4 linked regions of the Homo sapiens genome follow. The protein of the gene in region 3 purifies or fractionates together with the protein of the main gene of each other region. This does not show direct contact. Each region holds a gene or a part of one and is shown on either strand. Other genes may lie near its edges.

The links.
Region 1: the proteins of C6orf62 (region 3) and TPP2 purify together in Homo sapiens (affinity purification with mass spectrometry; one large-scale study listed by BioGRID and IntAct). This does not show direct contact.
Region 2: the proteins of C6orf62 (region 3) and UBE4A purify together in Homo sapiens (affinity purification with mass spectrometry; one large-scale study listed by BioGRID and IntAct). This does not show direct contact.
Region 4: the proteins of C6orf62 (region 3) and XRCC1 purify together in Homo sapiens (affinity purification with mass spectrometry; one large-scale study listed by BioGRID and IntAct). This does not show direct contact.

Annotation. Positions count from the first base shown.
Region 1 is NC_000013.11:102,639,301-102,647,164, forward strand, and holds part of TPP2 (tripeptidyl-peptidase 2), read left to right. Parts: intron 1-969; coding exon 970-1,076; intron 1,077-3,921; coding exon 3,922-4,076; intron 4,077-5,256; coding exon 5,257-5,373; intron 5,374-5,608; coding exon 5,609-5,709; intron 5,710-6,993; coding exon 6,994-7,090; intron 7,091-7,864. UniProt on the Homo sapiens protein: Cytosolic tripeptidyl-peptidase that releases N-terminal tripeptides from polypeptides and is a component of the proteolytic cascade acting downstream of the 26S proteasome in the ubiquitin-proteasome pathway.
Region 2 is NC_000011.10:118,371,235-118,379,098, reverse strand, and holds part of UBE4A (ubiquitin conjugation factor E4 A), read right to left. Parts: intron 7,586-7,864; coding exon 7,433-7,585; intron 6,593-7,432; coding exon 6,433-6,592; coding exon of another isoform or gene 6,412-6,432; intron 6,014-6,411; coding exon 5,811-6,013; intron 5,606-5,810; coding exon 5,414-5,605; intron 4,204-5,413; coding exon 3,870-4,203; intron 2,526-3,869; coding exon 2,405-2,525; intron 1-2,404.
Region 3 is NC_000006.12:24,702,697-24,709,457, forward strand, and holds the end of C6orf62 (uncharacterized protein C6orf62), read right to left. Parts: intron 6,216-6,761; coding exon 6,081-6,215; intron 3,567-6,080; coding exon 3,441-3,566; 3' UTR 2,165-3,440; downstream 1-2,164.
Region 4 is NC_000019.10:43,552,197-43,560,060, forward strand, and holds part of XRCC1 (DNA repair protein XRCC1), read right to left. Parts: intron 2,609-7,864; coding exon 2,450-2,608; intron 1,488-2,449; coding exon 1,413-1,487; intron 1,317-1,412; coding exon 1,205-1,316; intron 896-1,204; coding exon 786-895; intron 713-785; coding exon 601-712; intron 80-600; coding exon 1-79. UniProt on the Homo sapiens protein: Scaffold protein involved in DNA single-strand break repair by mediating the assembly of DNA break repair protein complexes. Negatively regulates ADP-ribosyltransferase activity of PARP1 during base-excision repair in order to prevent excessive PARP1 activity.

The sequences.
Region 1 (7,864 bases), on a different chromosome or scaffold from region 3:
TTCTGTTACTCTGGTAAATATTAAGTATGCAATAGATCTCAGCCCATGAGAAACACAGGATGAAATTGAGGAGAATAAATTTAAAAAGTGGTATACATGTGGAAAAATTGTGCAACAGTTAAATTCTCAGCCGTATATTCCCTCGAAGTCCAGTAGTAATTTAGACCAGGTAATGTGTAAGACCTTCAGGAGTCAGCTGCCACGCCATCTCCTTCAGGAAGCTTCCCAGGCTCCGTAACTCTTCTTGTCTATCTGGAGCATCTTATGTTAAATGTCTCTGATGATGATTCTCTCCATGCTAGATTGTCTAGGTTAAAGAATCATATTTTCTTCTTTGTTACGTTTCTAGCTCCTAATAACAGGGCCTCATGTAGTAGGCACTCATTTAACCGTTTGTCCTACTGACAAGAATTTGTCTCTAGCATAAAATTTGTTTCCGTGGTGGGTAGTTATGCATTTGAACTTTATTTCATTGATTTCTTACAAAAGTGCTTTGAAAGTAGTTTGCCTTTCTTTACTGTTTTACATCATGGGAGTGTTTTGAAGCTACAGGAGGAGCTTAATTTAACACAAGTCTCATAGCTATAATACCAGTGACATAAAACTTTATCATTGATTTTAATATCTAGGACTCACTGTAGTTTGGAATCTGGTAATTGGAAAATTCTGTGAATGTTGTAGAATGCCTTTAACAAAAAAGAGAATGCTTTTTTAATAGTGTGTGTGAATGTATCTTACAAATCATAAAATAGGCAAAAAGTAGAATCATCTATACTCTGCTATTCAGAGGTTATCTCTGCTAACCTACTGCAAAAATTGAACAATATCGTACCTACTGTTTTGTAACCAGCTTCTAAGTCCCTGTGTTTATTTCCAATGAATTGTTATTTTGCGTTTATCCAATGAAATCTAGAGTATCTGTGGTCTTATAATAAATATATACATTTAATTACTTTTATTAATTTTCAGAGTAAATGAATCATCACATTATGATCTAGCCTTTACAGATGTACACTTTAAACCTGGTCAAATTCGAAGGCATTTTATTGAGGTTCCTGAGGGTGCAACATGGGCTGGTAGGTAAAATTAAAATCTGTGTGACCGCTTATCTCTGTTTACGTTCTAATGACTATAGCTGTATGAGGTTCGTTTATCTGTAGCATGTATTTCCCTGGTACTAATATATGTATTTGGGTACCTTAGACTTTCTGTAAAGTTCAAAACGTTTTTAAGATCTAGTACAATTTTGCATTGGCCCATACAGGAAATTAAGCCATCTTAAGATGTTTTTAATATTTAAGGTTTGAGCTTAGTTTAGAATAATGCCTTACCTGGTAATAATTTTTTTTTTTTTTTTTTTTTTTTTTTTGAGACAGAGTCTCACTCTGTCGCCAGGCTGGAGTGCAGTGGCATGATCTCGGCTCACTGCAACCTCCACCTCCCCAGTTCAAACGATTCTCCTTCCTCAGCCTCCCGAGTAGCTTGGACTAGCAGGCGTGTGCTACCACGCCAGGCTATTTTTTGTATTTTTAGTAGACACGAGGTTTCACCATGTTGGCTAGGATGGTCTCGATCTCTTGACCTCGTGATACACTCGCCTCGTCCTCCCAAAGTGCTGGGATTACAGGCATGAGCAACTGTGCCCGGCCTAATTTTTAAAATACTACAAATCAGTTTAAACAATGCAGCTGTTGCTTAAACCTCAAACTGTTAAACTCTCAGAATTTTAGAAATAGAGCTTTAATCTTTGAAGCTCTGTTTATAGAAGATTTTCACTTCAGTGTCTCTGAAATTTTGAGAGTAAATGATTGCCTAACACAAAGCTCTTGAATTAACATGTTATAGTCCTGTGAGAGTGCTCATGTCATTCTTTTTTACAAGAGCTGTGGGTGTACCATATTTTCCTTCACAAGTTGTGTGTCCTAAATTTACAATTTAGCAGTCAGTATAGAAGGGTATGTCAGTTGTCAGAGCTCACTCCCATTGATAGAAGGAAGCAAATACGGGCAGTCAAGAAAGTGTCACCCAATTTAAATTAGTAGCCAGCATTGTTGATACTTCTTGGATTTGGCCCCTCTGCTAAGCACTTTACAGAGATTATCTTGTCTAGTCCCGTCAGAACCCTATAAGGTAGATAGGTGTCATTAGTAAAAATGGCTTGTATTTTACTTAGGAGTGTGTTTTTTGTACTTGTATGAAAGTACAGATATATTTACATCTGAGACTTTATTGAAAATGAAATATTGAAATCACACATGTATGACTTGGTTTGGGAATAACTGGTTGTATTTGGTTCCCCATACCATTTTCTGGTCATCTATCTGTATGCTGTCCATCTGTTTGTCACCTGGTATCACAGGAAATACCAGACTTTTCTTGTTTTTTGTAATTAGGTAAAGGCAAAATAATAGCAAAAGCTGAGAGCTAAAGCAGTGAATTGAACAGCACCCAATATAGCCTGTTAATTTGCACACTGGTTTATAATGGAGCTATTGCAGCAGTGAGAGGCTTCTGAGGATAATCGGGTTGTACTACACTCATTCATTAAGCATATTTTTCTGTACCATCTGTGCCAGGCCCTTTTCAGTGGGCTAAGGTGGTGAGCTACTTAGACAAGGACCCTGCTTCCAGAGGCCTTGAGAGCATCTAGTCCAAGATATTGCAGTTAAGAGAACTGGATTAGAGGGAGGCAGCACAGAGTAGCGGCAAGGCCACGGGCTTTGGAAATTGAGAAGTCTGGGTTTGGATCCACACTCTGCCATACGCTAATGGTTACCTGGGGGCAGGTTTCTAAATTTTCTGGACTTCTGTTTCAACTGTAAATATAGTCGTTAGTCTGTTGTAAGGATTAGGGATTTTATAGTACTTGGTACATAGCTTGTCTTCGTTGGGATTACGCTCACACTTGACAGTACTTCTAGAGGGTGGAGTCAGAGTTGCTGTGTTCAGCATTCCTGGGGTCCCATTCTCATAGGGCCCCTGGGACTTGTAGAGCTCCAGGCTCTGGTAAAATGTGCACTGGTAAATTAAAGAATACAAATCTATGGTTAATTAATACTGAATTGGGTACTTGTTTAGTGATAAATGGCACTGATTTATGATTGGTTTAGGTTGGTATTGAAAATAATTTGTTTTTTTAAATAAAAATTATCAAATGATCTAGAATGCAAGTAGTTAAGAGAATTTAACAGTCTTAGTTTTATTTCAAATAATTAGAAATATTGTCATAACACTAGATTTTGTATTCTTAGCAACTGACTAGGTTCTGAGAGCTCTCTGCACACCTGGTTTTATGAGCCACGGCATTGCGCCTTGCTTCAGTTCCCTTGAATTAGCTTGGGTGTTCTTTAGAAAAGCTGCCAATCTGGCATTGCGGTGATCTTGGCTTACCTCCAGCGCTGGCTCAGAGTAAAGTTAAGCATAAGTAGTCGTGCCAGGCTTTGTAGACGCACACAGTACACAAGTAGACCAAGAAGAGAGATTAGGAAAAGTTATCAATGAGGAATTGAGGCATGATAACAAATAGAGGTTTCCAAAAATATAACCTTCCTTACTTTATCTGGAATTGACTGGTTTTCAGCTAAAACAAGGAGGGATTTTAAAAGGTACCCGATTAATGTAATTGTGTATGCATCTATGGACAGCTTGCTGTTTCCAGGTGTTTGCAGCCTCATGGTGGTGGTTCATTTTAATACCAGTTTCTTTCGTTCCCATAGAAAATCTTCTAGTCTTCTACCTTTATTAATATTTTGTTGATTCTTTGTTTTTATGGAAATATGCAGATTTGAGTGTACATTTTATTTTTGATCCCTATTATGTCCCTACATGGGAATTATCCCTAAGTGGGCATTATTAAAGCCACTTTATGTCAATTTTAGGTCTTATAAGTTTAAAGCTTTGCTTCTTTCTTTCTTATTTTAGAAGTGACAGTGTGTTCGTGTTCTTCTGAGGTGTCAGCAAAGTTTGTTCTACATGCAGTCCAGCTTGTGAAGCAAAGAGCATATCGAAGCCATGAATTCTATAAGTTTTGTTCTCTTCCAGAGAAAGGAACACTGACTGAAGCTTTTCCTGTCCTAGTAAGTTTAATTATAGTTTATAATCCTAACACAATTTATTTGCCTTTTTGGTATGGGCTAAGACTAAGTATTTGCATTTGATTTTATAGTTTGTATTTAGCATGTTGGGATTATATATTTTTTTAATGCCAAAAAAATGAAGTAGAAAAATAGAAAATCTAATCAGGGTACTTGAAATCAAGTTGGAGGTAATTATGGCTGTAATTCTTGAATAGCATAGTCAAAGAAACATACTAGTCTGGTAGATTCTCGTGCCTTGTAGTTAGGACCCTGATTTAGATTATTCTTTGTTGTACTATAGATTAATTTCTTTAAGACCTGTTTGCTTGTCACTTAACTTATTTTACTAATGCTGTGTTGTTAAGCTATGAGGCTAATTTGCATTATAGGAAAACTGCTACTGCTTCATGTCTAAGTTATCTCAGATGATGGCAGACTGCATTCTTATCTGTGGTGTTGGAAATGATGACTAGTCTTTCTTCCATAGAAGGTGAAAGTACTGATGTTCTTCCTTCAATGCGCTCCTTTGTGTTTTCAGTTGGTTCTGGGATTTTCCCAGTATCTCTTGGTTTCTGGTTACTTTCATTTGTGTTCTTCCATGGATCAGTGTTGCTTCATCTTTTTAAACTTTTAAATCACTGATTACTAGAAAACTTACTTTAAAACTCAGTGCTAAGAGCAGGTGTTTTTTTTTCCTTTTCCTTATCTTTATTTTTTAATAGGGAGAAAGATGTAAATGACCATAATGTCATTTTGTTTTGGTTGCCAGGTAGCTGTGAGCCCAAACTCAATTGTGCCTATTGAGTATGCCTTACAAAGTTGAAGTATCTTTATTGTGTCGTTATACTTGATTATTTTTCTTTTGGTCCTAATTTTTTATTTCACTTCGAAATAATAAAATCACATTTGCTTTATTATATGTGCTTTCAGAAGCTGCCTAGGATCTTTTATGACAAGAAGCATAGGGTTATGAGTAAATAACTATGTATATTTAAATACACCATATCTCTGCAAATGATTTGTCTAACTCTTACTTAGCATAGCTGTTAAAATTTTTGAGTTTTCTTGCTACAAACAGGAAAAGTTTGAAAACAGAATTGCTCTGAAACAGCTAGTATTTATATTCTGTAATTTGAGAAAAATAAGAAAAGAGATATATTTTATTTACTTTTATTTGCAGGGTGGAAAAGCAATTGAATTTTGCATTGCTCGTTGGTGGGCAAGTCTCAGTGATGTCAACATTGATTATACCATTTCTTTCCATGGGATAGTGTGTACTGCTCCTCAGTTAAACATTGTAAGTTCCACAACATTTTCATGATTTTTAATGTCAGTTACTTGTGTTACTGGAGAGTAACTTCATTGGTTAGATTTAAACTTTAATGAGGGGAAATTACCTGTGGTTCTGAAGATAGCAGTAGGCTTTGTGTGTGGGTACTTATAAACTTTATATTGGACACATTTATTTTAGGTACAAAATATTGCTTATTTTTAGTAAAGTTTGAGAAAGTAATTTGAGAAATCCTTTGTAGCATGCATCGGAAGGAATCAACCGCTTTGATGTTCAGTCCTCCTTGAAATACGAAGATCTGGCTCCCTGCATAACTTTGAAGAACTGGGTCCAAACACTGCGGTATCATTCAATGTTTTAGGAACTACAGATATTGAATATAGATTGGGGGGATCTCTTACACTCTTAAAAAAGGGCCTTTTTTTTTTTTAATCCACCTGCATGCTAGAGGTGAGAATTTTATCCTTGCCAGCAGATCTCTGCAAGGCAGCCCCAGTATCAGCTTCTAGCTTCACTGTCCCACCTGACCAGCAAAGTCAAGGATGGTGGATAGCCGATCCCAGTCATGACTAGTTAGGATCAGTGGACATTAACCTTTTTATTTCTTGCTGTAAAATAGCAAGTTAACATTCTCTCTGATATTATTTTGTGAATCCTAATGCAGTCATTTTTAGAAACTGCAATACCATTAGAAACTGTTTATTAAATGGTAGAAACTTAAGTACTGTAGCCTGCTGTTTGTGCCTCAGCAGCTCCCCTTACAAAAGCAGGGCACCTTGACCTGTGTTCACATACTCACTGTGTTATAAAGATACCTGGTTTCTTTTGTTTAATCTGACCTTAACTCATCGGCATGAAGCCTAGTCTTAAGTGTATTAAAATAACCAATTAGGGACAATAGTCAGTGACACGGTGATGTCTAAAGATATACTGCTTCCTAGAATTATCAATAAAAATTAAAACATCCAGCTTTTGAAGATATATCCAACTTATATCATCCTGATGTTTTCTTCCTAAATCTAAAAAATTGGAGCTAAATTTAGAGTAGATTATGTTTCACTGACATTTTAAACTATATTTAAAACTTACTCTTCAGTGTCAGTTTTCTCCTTTATAAAATCTGTACATTAGCAACTTCCTTCAGAGGACTACTAAAAATATGAAATAACATTCCCTCGGCCAGGAGGAGGGCTGAGTGTGGCCCCTGCCATCTGGTGAGCAGCAGGGGTCTGGGGAGGTCTGTGCTGCACACAACACAGTACTGTCAACAGTTTGCACAAGGGGTACAAATCAGAACCTGTCTTGCAACACTTTTAGTTGTCACCCTAGTGTTAGGATTTGGTTGTATTGAGAGCTGTTTGTTCACATTTGAAAATGTTTTTGCCATGAAAAGATTGCCTTTGTCATATTTATTGCAAAATCTAAACTGTATGTATTGATATGATTCAATCAAATAATTATGTAAGTTAGTGATTAAAATATTGTAGAGTATACTGAAAAGGATAGCTCTCAGGAAGGTTCATCTGCACTTTTTGCAATATGTTACAGATTTTGTTGCATATGGTTTTATTTGTCTCATTCAATGAACTCTTGAATCAAACCAGTTATGTAGTTTCCTCATTACAGCCCAGTGAGTGCAAAAACAAAACCTTTAGGATCAAGAGATGTTTTGCCAAATAACCGTCAACTTTATGAGATGGTCCTGACATATAACTTTCATCAAGTAAGTGTTTGCCTAGTAAAGTGTACCCTTAGGATGAACTTTTGTGTTTTATTTATGATTCATAGAATCAAAAATGGAAGGACAGTGTATATGGTATATATAAAAAACAGAATCAAGTGATTAACAGTTAATTTGGAATTACTCTTTAGGAAATTATAATTTGTAATTAAATACCATTCAGTTGTAAAGTCACAAAATGTAATTGAGTGGTGACCTAGCCTTAAGCCTTAGTTTATAAAATCACTGATCACTGTCCATTGGTGCCATCTGACCCAGGGGTGATTAGATGGCTCAGAAATACCATCTGCCTTCTGGTGATGGTGCTGGGCCTGATTGCTTTCTGCGAAGAAGGCACTGGAACAGGGAAAGGTCAGAGTAGCTCCCAGGTGGGATGGGTGGCAAAAGTAATGGAGGCCAGTGTAAATGCTGGACCAAAGAATTGTTGTAAGATCAATGAGATTTCAATAAAACTGTTACTGAAACACACATCAGTTTGGTTATAATGTTAGGGAAATGGATTGGTTTCAGTGAATTTTCACATTTCAGTTTTATAAAGTAATTAGAGGTCCTGAAGTATGTATATGTTGCTTTATTAATGAATACACATAGCCAGGTGTGTATTTTTAAAAGTTTGTAAGAGAGCAGTGACTTTTATAAGTGCTAAAATACTGTGTGTTCTATATTTTCAAAATTTTTTACCACAAGTATTTTTAATGTTTTTTAAATGAAAAAGTCTCATGTCAATAACAATATTAAAAATTTGTATCAGAAATT
Region 2 (7,864 bases), on a different chromosome or scaffold from region 3:
CATCACACAAGGGCAATGATCATACTTTGATGCAATGATCATACTTTGATGGGGTTATATGGATAGTCTTTCTTTGGTTAGTAGAAAACTAAGCTGGTGAAAAGGGACTCTAGATTAGTAATGACCACATATAAACTAGTAGCCACCTGAGATGCAATCTAAGAGCAGCTTCCAGCTCTCTGTTGTTCAATATTAAATTAAATTATTCTTCAGAAAAGGTCAGCCTAATATTCTCTACTGAAAGGAAGACACATAATTCAAAGTTATGGATAATAGTCCAAAATCATTTCCTTTGGCCCTGTAGATAATGTCTTGAGCTAGCTAATATTGGGAAACTAGATGATATTCATTTTTTGTTTGAATCTAGGCAGCTGAGCAGCTTAAGCACATGCTGAACTTTTATCTACTGTCTTATTTAAAATGTCTATGATGGAGATTTCTCTCTAAAGACATAATTTCCTTCTTCCGGCAATGTGTTGACTGAGTAGTTTTGAAAAATGCTCTGCATCAATTCAGGTATCTTGAGAAGGCATTAAAAATTGCTATTCTTAGTGTCCCTTTCTATGACTGAGTTGCTGTTTTCTTCCTCTACTTATACCTGTCATAATCAGCTAAATCAGAGGAAAACAAATTACAGAATAATGAATAGCCAGAACCAGAACTGTTTTTGGAAGTCATACATTCTAGTTCTAAAATCTTAACATTTCTAGAATCTTCTTTATCTAATGTCTTTTGTGGTCCTATTGATCTCATTAGCTCCCTTATAAACATTTCCTTAATATTTGCCACTTTTGTCTCTATCTGTAGAGTAGAACTTGGTCTTTTTCTTTTTTTTAATTAATTTTTTTTTTTGAGACAGATTCTCGCCCTGTCGCCTAGGCTGGAGTGCAGTGACACCATCTCGGCTCACTGCAACCTCCGCCTCCCAGGTTCAAGCGATTCTCCTTCTTCAACCTCCCGAGTAGCTGGGACTACAGGCGCGTACCACCAAGCTGGGCTAATTTTTTGTATTTTTAGTAGAGACGGGGTTTCACCATGTTAGCTAGGACGGTCTTGATCTCCTGACCTTGTGATCTGCCTGCCTCAGCCTCCCAAAGTGCTGGGATTATAGGCATGAGCCACTGCGCCCGGCTGAACTTCATCTTTTATCACCAGGAGTAGTAATGAAATTTTTTTTTTTTTTTTTGAGACAGGGTTTCACTATGTTGCCCAGGCTGGAGTGCAGTGGCGCAATCTCGGCTCACTGCAGTCTCAACATCCCAGGCTCAAGAGATCCTCCCACCTCAGCCTCGTGAGTAGCTGACACTACAGGCACACGCCACCATGCCCAGCTAATTTTTGTATATTTTGTAGAGACGGGGTTTTGCCATGTTGCCCAGGCTGGTCTCAAACTCCTGGGCTCAAGTGATCTGCCTGCCTCGGCCTCCCAAAGTGCAAAGGATTACAGGCATGAGCCACCACACCCGGCCAGTAATGAAAATTTAAGAGCAGAAAGTGCAATATAAAATGAAAACAATTCCACTTTCCCAGATCACAATAGGAAGACAGTGATTTAATTTTTAAAGTTTAACAGGTCAAAAGTTAAAAAACAGGCCAGGCACAGTGGCTCATGCCTGTAATCCCAGCACTTTGGGAGGCCAAGGTGGTGGATCACCTGAGGTCAGGAGTTCGAGACCAGCCTGGCCAACACAGCGAAACCCCATCTCTACTAAAAAAATACAAAATCAGCTGGGCATGGTGGTGCATGCCTGTAATCCCAGCTACTTGGGAGGATGAGGCAGAAGAATTGCTTGAACCCAGGAGGCGGAGGTTGCAGTGAGCAGAGAATGTGCCACTGTACTCCAGCCAAGGTGACAAGAGCGAAAATCCATTTCAACAACAACGACAACGATAAAAGTTAAAAACAAATTTAAGGAATCTGGACAAAGCTGATTCATGAAACACAAGTAAATTCATACAATGCCCCTTTTCTATTAGATTCTAATGTGAACCTTTAGAATAAGCTCAGATTATATCTGTAAGACTCTTCCTCTCTTTTTTTTTTAAGAAACAGGTTATCACTCTGTCACCCAGGATGGAGTACAGTTGCACAATCATAGCTCACTGTGGCCTCCAACTCTTCGGCTAGAGCAATCCTCCTGCCTCAGCCTCTGAAGCAGCTAAGACCACAAGCATATGCCACCATGCCTGGCTAATTTTTTTTTTTTGGTAGAGATGGGGGTCTCACTTTCTTGCCCAGGTTGGTGGTCTTAAACTTCTGGCCTCAAGCAATCCTTCTGCCTTGGCCTCCCAAAATCCTGAGATTAAAGATGTGAGCTACTGTGCCTGGCCAAAGACTCAATTTCTACCTTCTAGTTATCAACACAACTAAACTGTTTTTTCCTAATGACATCAGAGGAGTTACCTGTGAAATCCCAAGTACAAGGTGTACTCTGTCAGAGCAAGGTTCTCTGTTACAAGGTTGTAGTTCTGTGGAAACTTCGGCTCCTGCACAGCTGGGATCAAACAGGTTTCTTTGTCCAAACCTCAAAGAAGTTAAAAAAAAAAAAGAGGGTAAATGTCTTGGTCTCCAGTCTCCTCTTACACTCATTCAATTTCCATACTGTTAGCAGTGATATCTTCTTAAAAACATATCTTGTCATATTAGTTCTTTGTCTGAATATATCTTTTGGTTTCTCACCGTCTACAGAAATACAGTTAAATCTTTTTCATGAAATCACCAAAAATTAAAAGGAATACTACTATAGATTGTTTCAAGTGATAGGCAATAGATCATTTGTATTTATTTTGTGCTTTTCTGAATTTGATTATTTGCTTTTGAGCAGTTATCATGTTTACAATTAGAATTATAAAACTGGAATGAAATATACCAAAATTAAGAGTGATTTCACTTTGAATGGTAGGACTGTGAGTCATTTATTTTCTCTTCATTTCTCTGTACTGTTTTCTCCAATCCAGCCCCACCTATCTTCCTCCCTTGATCCATTTCCTCCCCAACTCAACCCCATCTACCCCTTGCCCTAGCCACATTGAGCCTCTCACCATTCCTTAGTCAAGATTTTCCATAGCTTTGTACCTTTACACTTGCTTTTCTCTCTGTATAAAGGGACCCTCTTGCTTCTTTGCCTGGTAAAACCTAACTTGTCTCTCAAGACTCAGCTATGAAGACCTCCAACTTCTGCAGAATTGATTATTTACTCCCTCCTCTGTGCTCCCATAGCTTAGCCCTATACCATATTATAATTATCAGTTAATATATCTGCCTTCTGGAGCCTGAGTTCAAAAAGGATGAGGACTCTGCTTTATTCATTTTTATAAACTATGAATGAATGAATATGCAAGGCTGCCAAATCCAGAGAGAAGGTCTCACTAAAGTACAACATTTAAAAGCTACCAGGTGTTTTTTTTTTTCTCTCAAACATCTGTCTTTTAAAAATTCTGGCTGGGCGTGGTGGCTCACGCCTGTAATCCCAGCACTTTGAGAGGCTGAGGCGGATGGATCATGAGGTCAAGAGATCGAGACTATCCTGGCCAACATGGTGAAACTCCGTCTCTATTAAAAATACACAAAATTAGCTGGGCGTGGTGGCGCGTGCCTGTAGTCCCAGCTACTCGGGAGGCTGAGGCAGGAGAATCGCTGGAACACGGGAGGCAGAGATTGCGGTGAGCCAAGATAGCGTCACTGCACTACAGCCTGAGTGACAGAGTAAGACTCCATCTCAAAAAAAAAGAAAAAAAAATCGAAATAGCTCGTTTCTGCCTCATCTTTTTTTGAGAAAGGAACTCTGTGAAAAAGGATAAGGGAGTGAATGCTTTACACGTTACACACACACACACACACAGTTTTGAGAAGCCTGGTTCTCTCCTACCTCTCATGTGTACATTTTTAATTTTTCGTTCTTCATCATTCAACTCCTTGAGGGCACAGTATGTGGGATTAAAGGTGAGGAGCCGAGAGGATCTGGGTTTGCAAAATGGCTGGCATAGCTTCAGGAGAGCAGCACCCAGATTCAGAAAGAAAGCATCTGAGGCATACATTTGGAAAAAGATTTCTGGCATCTGATTGGCCCAAATCTTGGTGCGGCCTGCATTTGCATGCAAACAGTTTCCAAGCCAGGACAAGATACAGTGTTTGGTTTCTGGAGAGAGCTGGAGTAAGTTCTTCAGCATCTGGTAGATCTTTTCGTGGAACTGAGCCATGAACTGTTCAACCAGAAAACACAACCACAGAACGTTTCACAATCCTAATAGTTTTTATTCCCAAACCTTAGCAACTGGCAGTTTCCAAAAATATGCTAATCCTAATCTTTCCCCTCACTCTCTGTGCCTCATCCCCTAATTTGATTTTAAAATATATTTCTGGGCACTTATAAGAGATTTTCTGATCAGCTGCCCAACTGCAGATGGCATTACACGGTATTAGAGCACAGGTCTGTAAATTTTTTCTGCAAAGGGCTAGACAATAAGGATTTCTGGCATTACTTGCCATACAGTGTCTGTAGCAATTATTCAACTCTATCACTGTAGTATGAATTCAAACCAGAAACAATACATATACTAATGCGCATGGCTATGTTCAATAAACCTTTATTTACAAAAACAGGTGGCAGGCCAGATTTGGCCACTGCTAGTTTGCCATGCCTTGCCTTAGAGAGTTGTAATGATTAATGATTAGGGGACTTAAACTATCCCCAATTCAATCATTCAATGCCTCATGTTGGCCAGACCTCTACTATAATTTATGTGAAGAAGCCCAAAGAGAGGGCATAGGTGGAGACACGAAAAGGAAGAAAAACTGGGTTTATAAGCTAGAGTTCAGTCAAAAGATTTTCAGAGCTAAAGTTATAGCTCAGTGAGAAAAATGAGGGTTGGGGAGAAGTAGCTGTAGCAGTGCTACAGCAAAGGGTAATGAGTAGCAGCAGCTCATTCTTACCCCACACGTGCTGTTCTTAGCATATGCTACAAAGAGGGGATTTTTTTTTTTTGAGACAGAGTCTTCTTCTGTCATCCAGGCCGGAGCGTGATGATGCAATCATGGCTTACTGAAGTCTTGACCTCCCAGGCTCAAGTGATCCTCCCACCTCAGCCTCCCGAGTAGGTGGGACTACAGATGCTTGCCACCATGCCCACCTAAGTTTTGTATTTTTTTGTAGACATGGGGGTCTCACTGTGTTGCCTAGGCTGGTTTCAAATTGAACTCCTGGGCTCAAGCGATCCTCCCACCTTGGCCTCCCAAAGTGCCGGGATTACAGGCTTGAGCTACCATGCCCAGTTTTAATTTATTTATGTGATGTAAAAGCCAACTAGATCAATTTGCTTTCCCAGAGAGGCTTGAGCAGCCTTATCTGTATCTGCTTTCTGAGAAAACTCTTTTAAGATCAGGGGGCTGGGATACCCTGGTAAACAGTTCCACCTGATGGATGTTGGCCTCCTGTACTTTGATCTCCTGGGGGCTGGAACGAGATGGATTCAAAAAGTAGCCATGATTTTCTACAACACCCGGAGTCTTTAATAAGCAGGAGATACTCAGAATTACTCCCAGCAAGGTCTTCTGGTACATTTGCCCATTGGTAGGGTCCTTGGGCTGAATGTATTCTACAAAAACCTGTAAGAGAAGACAAGTTCTGCTTATTCATCTTCATGGTGAGATAAGGTGATGGGGTGGGAGGGCCTCAAAACAGTTAAGTTGATACAACAACCAAGCTATCTTTTTCTTATTTTATAGGTAGTATTATAGTGTCTTCAGGATAGGGAAGCATCATGTATTACACATCTAGCTCAACTGAATACATATCATCTTTCAGACCTACCTTTGCCATATCTTTTTGCCTAGTGAAATAGAGAAGAATATCCAGATATGCATACAAAAGGATCTGACAGAGCTCTAGATCTTTTATTCGGCCCAATAAAATATCAAACACTGGAATCATGACTTCTGGAAATGTTCTAACTTCCTCATCCAATATCAAGGCTTCAATGACCTCTTCCAGAAACTCAGTTACATCTTCAAAATCTAACAGAAGACAAATGAGAGAGAAAGGAGGGCACAAGAATTTTTATATGCCTTTACACACTAGCTCTTTACTTTCAATAATTCTTTTTTTTTTTTTTTTAGAGCTGGGGGTCTTGTTTTTTTGCTCAGCCTGGAGTGTAGTGGCTATTCACAGGTGTGATTATAGCACACTACAGCCTCAAACTCCTGGGCTCAAGGGATCCTTCTGCCTCAGCCTCCAGAGTAGATGGGACTACAGGGGTGTGCTACCATGCCCAGCTTTATTCTATTGGTACTCAACCTCAAAGATCAAGATGTGAGCCCTCCTCCTTAATTTATACCAGAACCATAATGGCTCTGAGACTTTCTAATGCAATTAGTGAAATTTTAAATCTGAAAATCAAAATGTAGAAGCTTACAGATCTTGTTCATGTACTCACGGGCTCCCTGGATGGCTTCTAACATCAAATCTACCAGTTGCTCATGGATGTTTTGGTCAACATAGATCTCTGGGGTGAGAAGAACTGTTCGGGTATTGGACACAGTGAGGTTTCTGCACTGCACTGCAAAGGGTAGCAGGTTCTCTGGAACTTTGGTAATCTGCAAACAGCATGAAGAAAAGAGGGAATAGTCTAACTCTGTAATCTGGAACGAAAGTAGACATAGTGAATACAATAGAAGAGACATACTGGTCTCCTGTGGATGCTTGAAAATTAATTAGAGATTCCTTCCTTGGCTTAAGGAATCATCTATCTGCCTATTTAAAATTCCAAACCTGGAAATATCCGGCTTAGCCTACTCTAATATTTACATCTCAGTGGAAATGAATTCATGAGCCCTTTTCTGATTTTTGAGACAGAGTCTCGCTCTGTCACCCAGGCTGGAGTGCAGTGGTGTGATCTCAGCTCACTGCAACCTCCACCTCCCAGGTTCAAGTGATTCTCCTGCCTCAGCCTCCTGAGTAGCTGGGATTATAAATGTGTGCCACCATGCCCGGCTAATTTTTGTATTTTCAGTAAAGGTTTTGCCATGTTGGCCAGGCTGGTCTCGAACTCCTGGCCTCATGTGATCCGCCTGCATCGGCCTCCCAAAGTGCTGGGATTACAGGAGTGAGCCACTGTGCCCAGCCTCATGAGATTTTTTTAAGGATGTGATTTCTAAAGAGGTTTTAGAGAGAATAGGAGGCATTGGTTAACTGGGGAGAAGGGTGGACCCCAAGATACGGAAAGGAGACTAAAGCTTTAGTGCATCTGATATCCAGTGTTCTAAACATACTATGACATATATAAATTGATATAAAAGCTTTAGTGTCCCTGATATTCACTTCTAGACATACTATGACATATATAAATTGAAATAAAGACTGATCCAACTCTGGCCCACATGCTGAAGTCATACCCAAGAGGACAATACAGTATTCAATGGGGATTATTCCTTTACCTCTTCCTTGGCTCTCTGGAAGCAGGAGTAAAGGTAACAAAAAATGTGCCTCTCTCCTGCATCTCGATCAGCAGAGAGATTTAGCGTTGTAGAAGAAGTCATGTTAATTAAGTGGTTGCCTGGATCTTGAAGTAATAAGCGAGCGAAGAGGGCCTATAAAGAAAACCAAACAAAAATACTAAACTATTGCAAAATTAATCTGAGAACATTAAGATGTAAAAGGTAATTCTGACACAGGTTATTAGCAAGAATCACAGATTTGAATGTAGAGTGAAGGAGAAAAAAAGGGCCCTGTATATTTTTACTTTAGAAAATTTTAGAAAATTATGGCATATATAAAGTTATCCTAAATCAAGCCTCAAGTGTCTAGTATAGCCCCAGCATAGAGTAGGCATTAAAAGACTATTTGTTGAATGGTGCTGAGATCAGTGA
Region 3 (6,761 bases):
GCCATATGCCTAAAAAAGACCTCAAGAAAAGTTTGAGGCTAAGCATGTTAGTGTTACAGGAAATGGTCCAATAGAGGGGGAAGAAAAAAAGCATGCTACTAGCCCCTTTTCTTGTACCGAGAATAAAACCATGCAGATCTCAAACCTCCAAGTCTATAGTATTGAAAAGACCAAGTTCACTTCTCAGAAGTCTCCAAGTTCAGTTGACTGTGGCACTCTGAGACAGCTTCTGTCACTCAGGCTGGAGTGATACAATCACAGCTTCCCATAGCCTCAAAATCCCAGGCTCAAGACATTCTTCCACCTCAGTCTCCTGAGTAGCTGGAACTACAGGCGTGTGCCACCACGCCTAATTTTATTTTTGTAGAAACAAGGTCTCACTGTTGCCCAGCCTCGTCTCAAACTCCTAGGCTCAAGCAATCCTCCTGCCTTGGCCCCCCAAGTACTGGACTTACAGGTGTGAACCACTGCACCCAGCTGACTCTTACTTGATTTCTGTCAGGGAATCTTAATGAACATTTCATGACTAAAGACTAAAAAGGATGCAGCTTTAAGTAAATTTAAGTCAAGTTAACAGTTAAAGACAAATCCTTTCCCTACATTAGATCGCCTGCTGATCTGTCCACTGTGAAAGGGCAGAAGACTCCACAGTAGCAATAGCAGCAGTGAGCATACAGGAGTCCCAGATGTTTACTTCTAGTATTTCCCACTAAAAGGAAGCTGGGCTCCTTGGAGAAACAGCTGACTCCAGGGCTTGAGGCTGGGACAGAAAGGTTACAGTATCTTATGCATGAAAGGAGATGCTCAAAATAATAAAGGCATGCAAATTATGATTTGGAGGGAAAAAATATGAGGCCATAGTGTTTAGGTAGATAATAAATGGCAGAGATAGAACACTCTCTTACAACAAATGCTGTAAATGGACAAAGCATTAGATTTGGAAAATCACTATTTTGTAACCATCATAGTTAAAGACTGGTTTGGGTTTTAGTCTGGAAAGAATCGCCAAGGGAGCTCCTGATAAAGGAACAGGGTATTTGCACATTGCTTCCCAGAGATTGCTAGTAGTAAGTACCACACATAGGGCAAAACCAGGACACCTTGACCAGGCGCTCAAAAGTAACATCAATGAAGAGCAGATGGAGAGTATACTTGAGAAGGGCGTTAAGCATGAATAAACAATTCAAATGCAAAATGAGTAACAATTTACAAGAAAAATTGCCCTGTACTCCAAAAAACATAGAGGTCATGGAACACATAAAGGCTAAGGAACTGTTCCACATTAAAGACAACTGAGAACAACTAAATTCAATGATCCTGTACTCTAGAGGGGGGGATCTAAAACAAGCTACCAAGGATACTGGGACAACAAAACGAATATGGATGATAAAGAGTATCAACATTCCCTGAGTTTGGTAATTTTACTCTAGTTATATGAAATATTCTTGTACTTGGAACATATGCCGAAGTACTAAGGAAGGGGTAAGGAAGCACAAAGTGTGCAACAAACTCAAATAGCTCACAGGTATAAGTGTACAGAGAAAATGAAAAAAATGTGGCAAAATAATAAAAATGAGGGTAAAGATTACACAACAGCTTTCATATTACTCTGGTAACTTTTCTAAATTATTCCAAAATAAAAACGTAAACAATGGCTGCCAAAATGCCTAACTTGGTGAACATAAGTGTAATTCAATATGGTAAATTAATTCAACATGGTAAATTAAGAGCATAGGCCTTAAGAGCCAGCCAGCCTGGTTTTAAATCCTCCACTACTTATGATCTGAGCTTGAGCAAGTTACTTAACCTCTGCATCTATTTCCACCAAAGGTTGAGAGGTTAAGACAAGAGCTTAGAAGAGTACCTGGTTATAATAAACATTCAAAATGTTATTTCAAATAGATTCTAATTTTTAAATAAGAGGACACATGAAAGCATTTTGAAATTTAAGAATGGCCCTTTCCCATGAAGCAAGGCATAAGGCCAGGTTGCTAACTGTTGAAAGCTGACAGTATGTTCTTGATTCCTGTTCTTGTTGAAGTTACACACTCAATTGCCAGGTATTTTTCTTCTGAATTTACTATTTAGCCACAGACTATGAAATAATTCTCTAAGGTGACCAGTAACATCAGTGAAATGGAAAGAAAAAGTTAACACTTCAAACTTTGTGTATTCACCTGAATAGTCAGGGAACTTTCACCTATTTTATTTAGGTTTTCTTTTTCTTTTTTTCTTTTTTTTTCAAATTCCAACCAGAAGCTAAATACAATTGGAAACTGGTAAGCACTAGTTTTACTCCAAAGGAGTAGGATCATTCAGATTTACTCCAATAAAAGTATGCAACCCTTAAGCAAAGCTTTTCTTCATTTAAAAGGAGAAAAAAAAAAAAACCTATACAGTAGTCTTTCCTTATGTTCATTGCACAAAATGAGTTCTGCTTTTAGAACTTTGACACTCAATGGTTAATTTTACAATTTAAGATTCCAACTTTATAACCTTTTTTCTACTCCAAAACACCCTTGTAAAGTTTTTCTTTAGGATGGTGTAAAAACCAGCATTTCTGCACAATTCACTGGAATTTTTTTCTTTGTAATAAAAATCTCTTCTCTGTAAAACCAAAAACAAAACAAAACAAAACAAAACAAAACCAAAAGAAAAGTCCTCTACCTATCATGGTTTCTGCAGCTATGCATGTATTTCTGTTTTATAGCTGCTTTATAGCTACTTCAGACTCCAGATCTGCTTTAATGTGTATAACTGCATCCACACGCAGCAGAATACTCTTACAATAGCAACTTGGGGAAAGAGATCTGGAAAAAAAAAATACATGAGTACCAGGAAACAAACATGGCCCAGTAAAATATGAGGCAAAAATGCCTACAATGAGATGCGTTTTTCATTTAAGATTTCTTTCCCATGGTTGTATTTTCTTTTTTTAAACCAGTTCTGGTCATTAGAATGTATCTGACAGTGCTCTGGAACAACTGTGATTATAGCAAAGTTATTGTTTTTAAAAATGTTATTTATACCTGTTACATTCACTTCTCACCCTCTAAATACTGATGACAGATGTCAAAGAGGCAAAAACCAGCACAAATGGGAAGACCATAAAAATGAGTATCACCTTGTGCTTTCAGATACATTTAAGCATTTCAGTGTACAATAGTCCTTTCATTTCACATTTTTAGTAAGATACTGATGCAGTGCAGCAAATATGCAAAGCATCTTCTTTCACACAGTCCGTGCACGACATCTAATTTTTGTTTAAGTTCTGAGATAAAAATGATTTAAAAAAATCCAGGATGAACAAGTTTCAAAATGCATAGTGTTCTGTGCATGAGTCCATTTTCTTTAAACTCTGAAAGAATAAAGTGGTAAGAAAACAAGAAAAAAAACTGCTGCTGCATTCTCTGATCTTCTCCATTTTGCTGGTCAGTACTCTACTCTGGCATATAAGGACGGAGGTGATCCTCTATGGTGCCAACTGCCCAGTGGGTGAGCTGTTCCTGTGGCAGGTAGAGGCAGATGCTGCATAACTTGAAGATTGTAGCTTTGTTTTTTGGAGTCTGGAAGGGGAAAACATTTTAATATTTTTTAAAAATAAGACTTTAGCGTAACTGTCACATGAAGTCCATTTCCCACAATTTATTAAACATCTTAACATACAGAGTAAGGGACAAATTGTAGTCCCTATCCATATTCTAGACAGACAAAATCTTGCCATATAAGATAAAGGAAAAATTTATGCAGAATTAGAAGATAAAAAGTTAGGGAAGTAAACCAGAGACTACTTGCTAGAAGAAATTAAAGCTAAAGGCATTTCATGGGGACAGATTTTGAGAAGTTTGAAGTCATTTTTATATAGAGGAAGATAAAGCAGATGTGGTAAGAATAGAAGCTAGTGAGAGGATGAAGGAATAGGTAAAAATTTAAGGCTGGGTGTGGTGGCTCAGACCTGTAATCCCAGCACTTTGGGAGGCTGAGTCAGGAGGATTGCTTGAGCCCAAGAGTTCAAGACCATTCTGGGCAACATGACGAAAACCCATCTCTACAAAAAATATAAAAATTAGCTGGATGTGGTGGCACACGCCTGTAGTCCAGCCACTCGGGAAGCTGAGGTGGATAACCTGCGCCCAGGAGGTCAAGGCTGCGGTGAGCCATGATCCATATGCCAGTGTACTCCAGCGTGGTGACAGAGTTGAGACCTTGTCTCAAAAAATAAATAAAAGATTTAAGCATATCCTGGGGTAAGGGACTAGAAAAAAGCCAAAGTATTACCAGTTAAATCAAAACCCTTATTTTTAAAAAGTAGTTACCATTTGAACATCCAACTTAATTACAAAGTTCATCTTTTCTTCACTATCTAGCACCTCTAAAAGGCAAAATAAGGACTCTGACTTTGAAGATGTCTGAAGTAGCCTACAAATGTAAATAAACCTATACATATGTAATATACTTTACTTGTATTAGTTAATTTTAAATGTAACAACCTTACGTTAAATTTAACAACCTTAGGATTATCATTTGTTCAATTTCACAGAAGCAACATGCTCACAGCAGTTACCTGTCCAAGATCATACAGCCAGCAAGTGGCTGCATCTAAAAACTAAATTGCAATACTTGGATTGCTGCTTAACTGGGAAGTGGTTATTTGTTGTTGGCGGTGTTTTTTTTTTTTTTGAGATGGGGTCTCGCTGCATTACTCAGGCAGGAGTGTGTTGGTGCCATGGCTCACTGCAACTCTAAACTCCTGGGCTCAAGTGATTCTCCCCTGCCTCAGCCTCCAGAGTAGCTAGGACCACAGGAACACGCCACAATGTCCGGCTAATTTCTTTGATTTTTTGTAGAGATGTCGTCTCACTCTGTTGCCCAGGCTGGTCTTGGACTCAAGCAATCCTCCCCCATCGGCTTCCCAAAATGCTAGGATTACAAGTGTGAGACACTGTGCCCAAATGGAAGTGCTTATTTGAAATAAATGTGGATCTTTTAAATATATGTCCCTCATCCTTTTAGATTTAAAAAGTCAGCCGGTTGCGGTGGCTCACGCCTGTAATCCCAGCACTTTGGTAGGCCAAGGCAGGCAGATCATGAGGTCAGGAGATTGAGACCATCCTGGCTAACATGGTGAAACCCTGTCTCTACTAAAATACAAAAAAAAAAAAAAATTAGCTGGGCGTGGTGGCGGGCACCTGTAGTCCCAGCTACTCGGGAGGCTGAGGCAGGAGAATGGCGTGAACCCGGAAGGTGGAGCTTGCAGCGAACTGAGATTGCGCCACGGCACTCCAGCCTGGGCGACAGAGACTCCCTCTCAAGAAAAAAAAAAACGTCCAGGTCAGTGCTTCTGGAAACAAAGTGTGTTTCAAATCACCTGAGGGTTCTGTTTAAAGTGCAGACTCTGATTAGTAGAGCCTGAGAGTCTATATTTTTAACAAGTTCTCAAGTGATGTTCATCCATTGCCCACACATCTGGTAGACACGCTTTAGGGCAATAGTTCTCACTACTGTTCACTAGAATCATGACTTTTAAAAGCTTCGAAGGAGGTGGGTTTTTTCCCGTTTAAAAAAAAAAAAAAGGCTTGCCAGGTTGCTGTAACATGCAGCAAAATTTGGGAACCATTGTTCTACAGTGAGGCCTGGGAAATACTTTTTTAAAAATTCATTTTATTTTTTGAGACAGGGTCTCGTTCTGTCATTCAAGCTGGAGTGCAGTGACAAGATCTCACTGTAGCCTCCTAAGCTCAAGCAATCCTCCCCCTTCAGCCTCCCCAGTAGCTGGGACTACAGGCACACGCCACCATGCCTGGCTAGTTTTTATATTTTCTGTAGAGATGGGGTTTCGTCATGTTGCCCAGGCTGGTCTGGAATTCCTGAGCTCAAGCAATATGCCCGCCTCGGCTTTCCAAAGTGCTGGGATTACAGGCATGAGCCACCATGCCCAGCCTATTTTTTGCTTTTTAAATAACTTCAAAAATAATGCAGTGTTTGGGGGACACAACAATTAAGTAACTTGTATATAAAACGTTTACTAACCAATAAGTTTTTGAATGAGCCTGTAAGTGGTTTTCAAAAAAGCTGCTTACCTGCAAGTGCTGTCTGTCAATGAAGAGAAACACTGACTGGTTAGGATTGTTGACAACGATTCCAGTCTTGTCCTTGCGGCTCAGTACATGCAGAAACTGTTTTTCATAGTCACCATGATGAAACTCAAATTTGGCCTAATTACAAAATACAACATTTATATTAAACTACAAACAAGTTATACTACCTATCTGCATCTATATGCTAGCTGTGCTGTCCAATAAAGCAGCCAACAGTCCGTTATCTTTTCCTCTTTAAAAAAACAAATTTTGGCAAACCCACAGCCAATAATATCACAGGCAAAATTTAGATTAAAAGCAATTTACAATTCCATTCTTCAGTAGCACTAGCCACATTTCAAATGCTCAACGGTCACATGACTACTGGCCACCATTAAGAACAATCTCTTGAGATACAGAACATTTCCTTAATTGTAGAGAATTCTATTGGACAGTACACTCCACAACAGCAGTTGATCAGGAAATGCTCTGCATCAAAATGACTAAATCCTAGTACTCCACGATCATAAAATTGTATTTTCAAACCTACTCAGTCCAAGACTCCCACCATAGTACTTTAAGCCCCAAGGACATCTCTTTTCTTTTGATTAGGAGTCACATTGTTAATTGCTGTTTCTAAGAAAAAAAAAAAATAAATCTGTTTATTCTAACCCTAGCTGCACA
Region 4 (7,864 bases), on a different chromosome or scaffold from region 3:
CCTCGGGGTTTGCCTGTCACTGCCCCCTGTGCTCGGGCAGGGACTGGGGCTGTGGCTGGGGTACGAGTTGGAGCTGGCACTGGAGAAGACAAAGAGTAGATTAGGTTAGCACCACTGGGGGTCAACCCCCAGCCCCTCCTCCCTCAGACCCAGCAGTCCAGGCCCCAGACCCTCCTCCCTCAGACCCAGCAATCCAGGCCCCAGCCCCTCCCCCCTCAGACCCAGGGGTCCAGGCCCCCAGCCCCTCCTCCCTCAGACCCAGGAGTCCAGGCCCCCAGCCCCTCCTCCCTCAGGCCCAGGAGTCCAGGCCCCCAGCCCCTCCTCCCTCAGACCCAGGGATCCAGGCCCCCAACCCCTCCTCTCTCAGACCCAGGGGTCCAGGCTCCCAGCCCCTCCTCCCTCAGACCCAGGGGTTTAGGCCCTCAGCCCCTCCTCCCTCGGATTCAGGAATCCAGGCCCCCAGCCCCTCCTCCCTCAGACCCAGGGGTCCAGGCCCCCAGCCCTTCCTCCCTCAGATTCAGGACAGCAGGCTCCAGCCCCGCTTCCCCTAGGACACAGGAGCACAGGCCCCTGTGGAAACAAGGGATCTAGTTAGCTCACATTTAGGTCTCTTGGGAACAGATGGCGACAGCTGGGCTGGTGGTTTGCTGGGGGTCTTCTTTTCTTCTTGGTTCAAATCCAACTTCCTCTTCCCTTTGGGAGACTCCTGGGGCTGAGGGGATGGGGATGGATTGAGGCCTCCAGCTTCTCTCCTCCTCCACCCCACCAAAGTCTGATGATTTCACCTTGGAGGTGCTGCCTATGGCCCTGGAGACTGGAGAGGCTGAGGAGGCAGCACTAGAAGCCTGGAGGGTAGCAGCTGCATAGCTAGGTCCTGCTGGGTCGCTGGCTGTGACTATGAAGGGAGAAAGTGGATCCAGGATGAGAGGGCTGAGCCCCAAGACCCTTTCACTCCTATCTATGGGACACAGAATATTGTTGCCAAAACCCACCAGTGATCCAGGAGTCCCAGCCTCCAGACCTCTCAACCCTCAGGACACAAGAGGCCAGGCCCACCTTCCTCCACCCTGAGACCCAGGAGTCCAGGACTCCACTACCCTCCTCCCTCAGACCCAGGAATCTGAGCCCCAGCCCCCTCTACCCTCAGACCCACGAGTCTAGGTCTCAACCCTACTCACTCAGGACCCACGTTGTCCGAGCTCACCTGGGGATGTCTTGTTGATCCGGCTGAAGAAGAGAGCCCCCGGCCTCAGAGAGTTGGCGCTCTCATCCTCCTCCTTCACACGGAACTGGCCAAGCTTGGTCACTGTCACCTTCTAAGGTCCCGCAAGGTCAGTATTATAGGTGGGCTGCTGGCAGGTGGGGGTGGAGAGGCAGGGAGAAGGCCATGGGGAGTGACAGGTACAGCTTACCTGGGACGGGGCCTCTGCCTCATCTTTGTCTGGGGGGCTATGAAACCGTACAAAACTCAAGCCAAAGGGGGAGTCCTGGGAAAGGAGGGGTGGGAGTCAGGGAGTCTGGCCCAAGGACAGAGGCCAGGGCCCAAGACCCTTTTCACTCAGGGAAACCTCTTCCTGGCTCCTTCCCTCTCATGAACACCCATGTTGAAGGAGGGGCCCTGGCGATGGTGATGACAATTATAGGATTAAGCTGTTATGACTGAGCCCTAACTCTGAGTCTGGCTCCAAGCCCTTTTCACGCATTAGCTCTTTGGGCAATTGGCAGAGTCTACTAGGTGTCCCAGCGAATTCACTGCCCTATGCACAAACTCCTGCCTGTGGAATGGGAGGGAGTGCTGCGTGCCACTTCCAGAACACAGAAGTGTTCCAGGCTCTCTCCTCTGCCAGCTGGATGCAGAGCCAGAAAATAGGAGAAGTCTGGGTCCCTGCACGACCTCATAAGGAGAAGCCAGCTGACAGGCTAAACACTCCCCAGGACAGTTACCTGGGCAAGAAGCACACCTTTAGTGTGTGGCATCATCACATACTCCAGTCTCACTGTTACCACAGCTTTTAGCATCCCTTAACCTACAGCAACCCTGTAAGGATCAGGCAATGGAGGCCCAGAGAGCGTAAGTCACTTGCCCAAGATCACACAGCTAAAAAGTGGTATAGCCAGGACGTGAACTCAGTAATCAGACGCCAGATCTCCTGATGTTAACTACTAGGCCCACTCTACTAGGCCACCTCTCTAACAAGTCAGTTCCCCTCCTCCGATTCCCCTCTGAGATGCTGCAGTTCACCCTTCCTAGATTCCTCCGGGAGATGAAACTTCTCATTACAGGAAAGATCCCAAACCCATTTCAGGGAACGCAGGGACCCAGCCTCCCCATAATCCCATGGGACACCAGCTGTCTACTCCTCCCAGCCCTATGGGACTCAATATTGGCCCTTATTTCCCTCCTTGCCCAGGACCAAGGACTCTGCACCCTGGCTCCCACCCTAGGTACCTTGCTGTAGGGCTGGCTGCAAACAATTTTGACCCGGTCCCAGCGCTTCTCGGCGGCTGCCCGGACCAGCTTGTCAGGCCCAAACATGCGAACGCGGTTGGGGTTTGAGCCACTGCGGCTCTCGGAAGGGGACATGAAAGATGAGGTGACCAGAAGGACCTGGGTGGGAGAAGCCACAGTGCATGAGAACCAGGGCAGGTTGGCTTAGATGAGAGCTTCTAGGGGCTGGGGAAGAGGGCACAGGGCCCACACAGGGGACTGGGAGTCACTAGAATGTAGCTTGGGCCTAGATGTCTCCAGACCCTTTGTTTCTAGGCCTTGAGTCAGTCCTGCCCTGACACAGGCCCCAGAGGGATCTCTTTATCCTCCAGATGTGAGCGACCCTTATCTAAATTCTCCCATGGAGTCTTCCATATCTGGCAATACAGCGGGCTACATGTCCTAAGGAACTTTCCCGGCAGAGAATATTCAGTAAACTGGCACAATATTCAAACACCTTTTGGAAATGCACAGGTGAGTCAGCGGAAAGGCAAGGGGAATTACTAGAGGCTGGAAATGAGAAAACAGAATCCAGAGAGTCAGGCGAGCTGCACTAAGTATTAAGTGATTGTTTCTCAGCTCAAACCTACCCTCTACAACTCATCTCTGTGATCTGGGCCCGCACTTGGCAAACCACCTTTCTGCTTCCCTAGCTGATCGTGACCAGGCTCTGCCAATAGGGGGGGCAAGAGAGAGAGTTTGCAAGGCTGCAGGAGGGAGGAAGGACCAGCTTCTCGTGCATTGCAGATCCTGTGAGCATCACCCCCAGTTAAGCTTCTGCTGCTGCAGTGGTTCCTGCCTGCAGCAGCAGATGAATCCAGTTTGCAGTGTCCCAATACCTCCAGAAACAGCCTCATTCAGCCCCTCTCAGCAGCCGGTGGGGGAGGAAGCCCTCCTCAAACGATCTGAATTTCAGCTCCTGGAGCCCCACCTCCCAGTTTCCAAACATCTACGTTTCAATAATTCCTGCTCCTTTCTTTTGTTCCCCCAACCCTGGGAGTGGTAGCTACTCCCTGCGGTTGCTTCTCCCTCATATCTTAGTCTTCTAGTAACACCTAGTTACTGGTTCTTTCTATCAAATTATCTGTTAAAATAACTGGTGTGGTTTTAATCTCCGGGCAAGGACCCTGACTGACCCGGCAGCACTCATGTTGGTAGTTTGTCATGGTGCTGATCCCAGATAGCAAATAACTTGATTTTATTTATTATTATTATTTTTTTAAGAGACAGGGTCTTTCTCTGTCACCCAGGCTGGAGCACAGTGGTGCGATCATAGCTCACTGCAGCCTCGACCTCTGGGTCTCAAGTGATTCTCCCACCTTGGCCTCTGAGTAGCTGGGTCTAGAGATGCACGACACCACACCTGGCTAATTTTTTATTTTTTGTAGAGGCATGGTCTTGCTATGTTGCCCAGGCTGGTCCTGAACTCCTGGCCTCAAATGATCCTCTCACCTCAGCCTCCCAAAGCTATAGAAGTACAAGTGTAAGCCACCACACCCAGCTAGAACTTGATCTTTAAGGGTTATGCACGTGGTGGTGAAAGAGAACAAGAGAGAAAACCTAGGCTCCAAGCAAGGGAGAGTGGCATCTCAGAGATCCTCACCACACTGCATAGAACTGAGGACTCCCCAAAGGCAACGCCCACACTAGTTACATGAAGGGGAAATAAGCCTGTGGAAAGAGTCCCTGGGAGGCCTGTCTGTCTTGGCCTTAGCTTGGGGGGACACCAAAGAAGAGGTGAAAATTCTTCTCGGGAGAACTCCTCACAAGTCTGTTCTCTCAAGGAATTGAGAGTAGCAATTCATGTTAGCAATCTGCATTGAAAAACCCAAGCTGAGGCCAGGCGCGGTGGCTCACGCCTGTAATCCCAGCACTTTGGGAGGCCAAGGCAGGCGGATCATTTGAGGTTAGGAGTTCAATACCAGCCTGGCCAACATGGTAAAACCCCATCTCTACTAAAAATACAAAATTTAAGCCAGGCATGGTGGCAGACGCCTGTTGTCCCAGCTACTCGGGAGGCTGAGGCACGAGAATTGCTTGAACCCAGGAGGCGGAGGTTGCAGTGAGCTGAGATCGCACCATTGCACTTAAGCCTGGTGGACAAGAGGCCAGGAGTTCAAGACCAGCCTAGCCAACATGGTGAAACACCGTCTTTACTAAAAATACAAAAATTAGCTGGACATGGTGGTAGGCACCTATAATCCCAGCTACTCGAGAGGCTGAGGCACAAGAATCGCTTGAACCCAGGAGTTGGAGGTGATGGTGAGCCGAGATTGTGCCACTGCATTCCAGCCTGGGTGACGGAGCAAGACTCTGCCAAAAAACAAAAAACGAAACAAAAAGACTGGGCACAGTGGCTCACACCTGTAATCCCAGCACTTTGGGAGGCCAAAGCAGGCAAATCACGAGGTCAGGAGATCGAGACCATCCTGGCCAACATAGTGAAACCCCATCTCTACTAAAAATACAAAAAAATTAGCTGGGCATGGTGGCGCGTGCCTGTAGTCCCAGCTACTCGGGAGGCTGAGGCAGGAGAATCACTTGAACCCAGGAGGCGGAGGTTGCAGTGAGCCAAGATTGCGCCACTGCACTCCAGCCTGGCAATAGAGCGAGACTCCGTCTCAAAAAAAAAAAAAAAAAAAAAAAAGATGAATGCAGCCACTTTTGGTTGGGTATATTTTGTTACTGACTTAGTCTCTTTTCTAACTGACATGCTGTGAAATTATAAAATTGGACAATAAAGCCTTTTGCTGAGAAAAACAGAACATAACTATAGCTCTCTTTGTGCACAGCTGATTATGCAAAGGAAACAAGAAAGACAATTATACAGAAGGGAAGTTTTCTTCCTGACCTTGACTATACTTGTTTATAAAAGGCCTGATTTGGAGCTGACAGGGAAGCTGCATTTATCATCTGGTGACTAACATGGGAAAACCCTGTCCTACTAAATACAAAAAAAATAGCCATGCATGGTGGCACAGGCCTGTAATCCGAGCTACTTGGGAGGCTAAGATGGAGAATCGTTTGTACCTGGGAGGCGGAGGTTGCAGTGAACCGAGATTGCACCACTGCACTCCAGCCTGGGCAACAGGAGCAAAATTCCATCTCAAAAAAAAAAAAAAAAAAAAAAAAAAAGGAAGGAGGGAGGGAAGGAGGGGAGGGAGAATGGAAGGAAGGAAGGCTCCTGTGACTTTGGGTTTGTGCCTTTGATGTTTTTGAAGAGTAGAGGTCAGTGATTTTTGTCAGATATCACTTATTGTACAAAGTATCTGATGTTTCCTTGTGATTAATTTAGGTTGCACACTTTGGCCAGAATACCACAGAAGTGATGTGTAATATACAGTTTATTTTGTATATTGACTTCTCATCTTGTGACCTTCACTTACTAAACCTTGTAGTTTGTCTAGATCTCTTGGGATTTTCTGCATAGACAATCATGCCATCTGTGAAAAAAGATAGTTTTCTTTTTTCTTTTTCTCACCTTGTCACACTGACTAGTGCAAAGTTGGGCATGGTGGTGCAAGCCTGTAGTCCCAGCTACTTGAGGGGCTGTGGAAGGAGGATCACTTGAACCCGGGAGGACAAGGCTGCAGTGAGCTGAGATCGTGCCACTGCACTCCAGCCTGGGTGACAAAGTGAGACCTCGTTTCAAAAAAAAAAGAGTAGGCCAGGTACACACAGCAGCTCACATGTGTAATCCTAGCACTTTGGGAGGCCGCAGCAGGTGGATCACCTGACCTCAGGAGTTCAAGACCAGCCTGGGCAACACAGTGAAACCCTATTTCTACAAAAAATATTTAAAAATTAGCCGGGCATGATGGCTCCCACTAGCTACTTGGGGGGCTGAGGCGGGAGGATCACTTGAGCCCAGGAGGCAGAGGTTGCAGTGAGCTGAGATCATGCCACTGTACTCCAACCTGAGCAACAGAGTGAGACCCCCATCTCAAATAAATAAATAAATAAATAAATAAATACATATATACATAAATAAATAATATGGTTAAAAAAAGAGACAGTTTGGTATTGGCATAAAGAAAACTATACATATCAATGGAACAGAGAAGAGAGTACAGAAATAAACCCATACATATGGTTAATTAATTCTCAACAAGGAGTCAAAATGATTCAATGAGAAAAGGCAAGTCTTTTTTTTTTTTTCAAAGTATTTTCAGCCAGGTGCAGTGGCTCAGGTCTGTAATCCCAATACTTTGGGAGGCCAAGGTGGGAGGATCACTTTAAGCTCAGGAGTTCAAGACCAGCCAGGCAATGTAGTGAAACCCCATTTCTACAAAAAATTTTTTAAAAAATTAGCCGGGTATGGCGGCTCACACCTATAGTCCCAGCTACTCAGGAGGCTGAGGCTGGAGAATCCCTTGAGTCTGGGAAGCGGAGGTTGCAGTGAGCCAAGATCATGCCACTGCACTCCAGCCTGGCCAACAGAGTGAGACTCTGTCTTAAAATAAATAAAATAAATAAATAAGCATTGTCAACAAACATATAAAAAAGATACAGAAAAGGGCCGGGTGCGGTGGCTCACACCTGTAATCCCAGCACTTTGGGAGGCTAAGGTGGGCAGATCACAAGGTCAGGAGATCGAGACCATCCTGGCTAACACAGTGAAACCCTGTCTCTACTAAAAATACAAAAAATTAGCCGGGCATGGTGGCACGTGCCTGTAGTCCCAGCTACTCCGGAGGCTGAGGCAGAATGGCGTGAACCCGGGAGGTGGAGCTTGCAGTGAGCCGAGATCGCGCCACTGCACTCCAGCCTGGGCAACAGAGTGAGACTCCATCTCAAAAAAAAAAAAAAAAAAAAAAAAGATACAGAAAAAATAAACCTTATCCCCTGCTTCACACAATACACAAAAATTCACTTGAGATGAAACAGAGATCTAAATGTAAAATCTAAAAATAGAAAGCTTCTAGAAGAAAACATAGGAGACAGGCAGAATAACAGCTCCTCAAAGATGTTTACATCCTAATCCCTGAACCTGGAAATGTGGCAGAAGGCACTTTGCAGATGTGATGAACTTGAAGATGTTGAAATGGGGGAGATGCCCCTGGATTATCCGGGTAGGCCAAGTGTCATCATAAGGGTCTTTATAAGAAAGGAGGGCTGGGTGTGGTGGCTCATGCCTGTAATCCTAGCACTTTGGGAGGCTGGGGTGGGTGGATCACTTGAGCCCAGGAGTTTGAGACCAGCCTGGGCAACACAGTGAAACCCTCTCTCTATAAAAAATAACAAAAGCTAGCCAGGAGTGGTGGTGTGCACCTGTAGCCCTGGCTACTTGGGAGGCTGAGGTGGGAGAATCACTTGAACCTCAGAGGCAGAAGTTGCAGTGAGCTGAGAACACGCCACTGTACTCCAGCCTGGGCA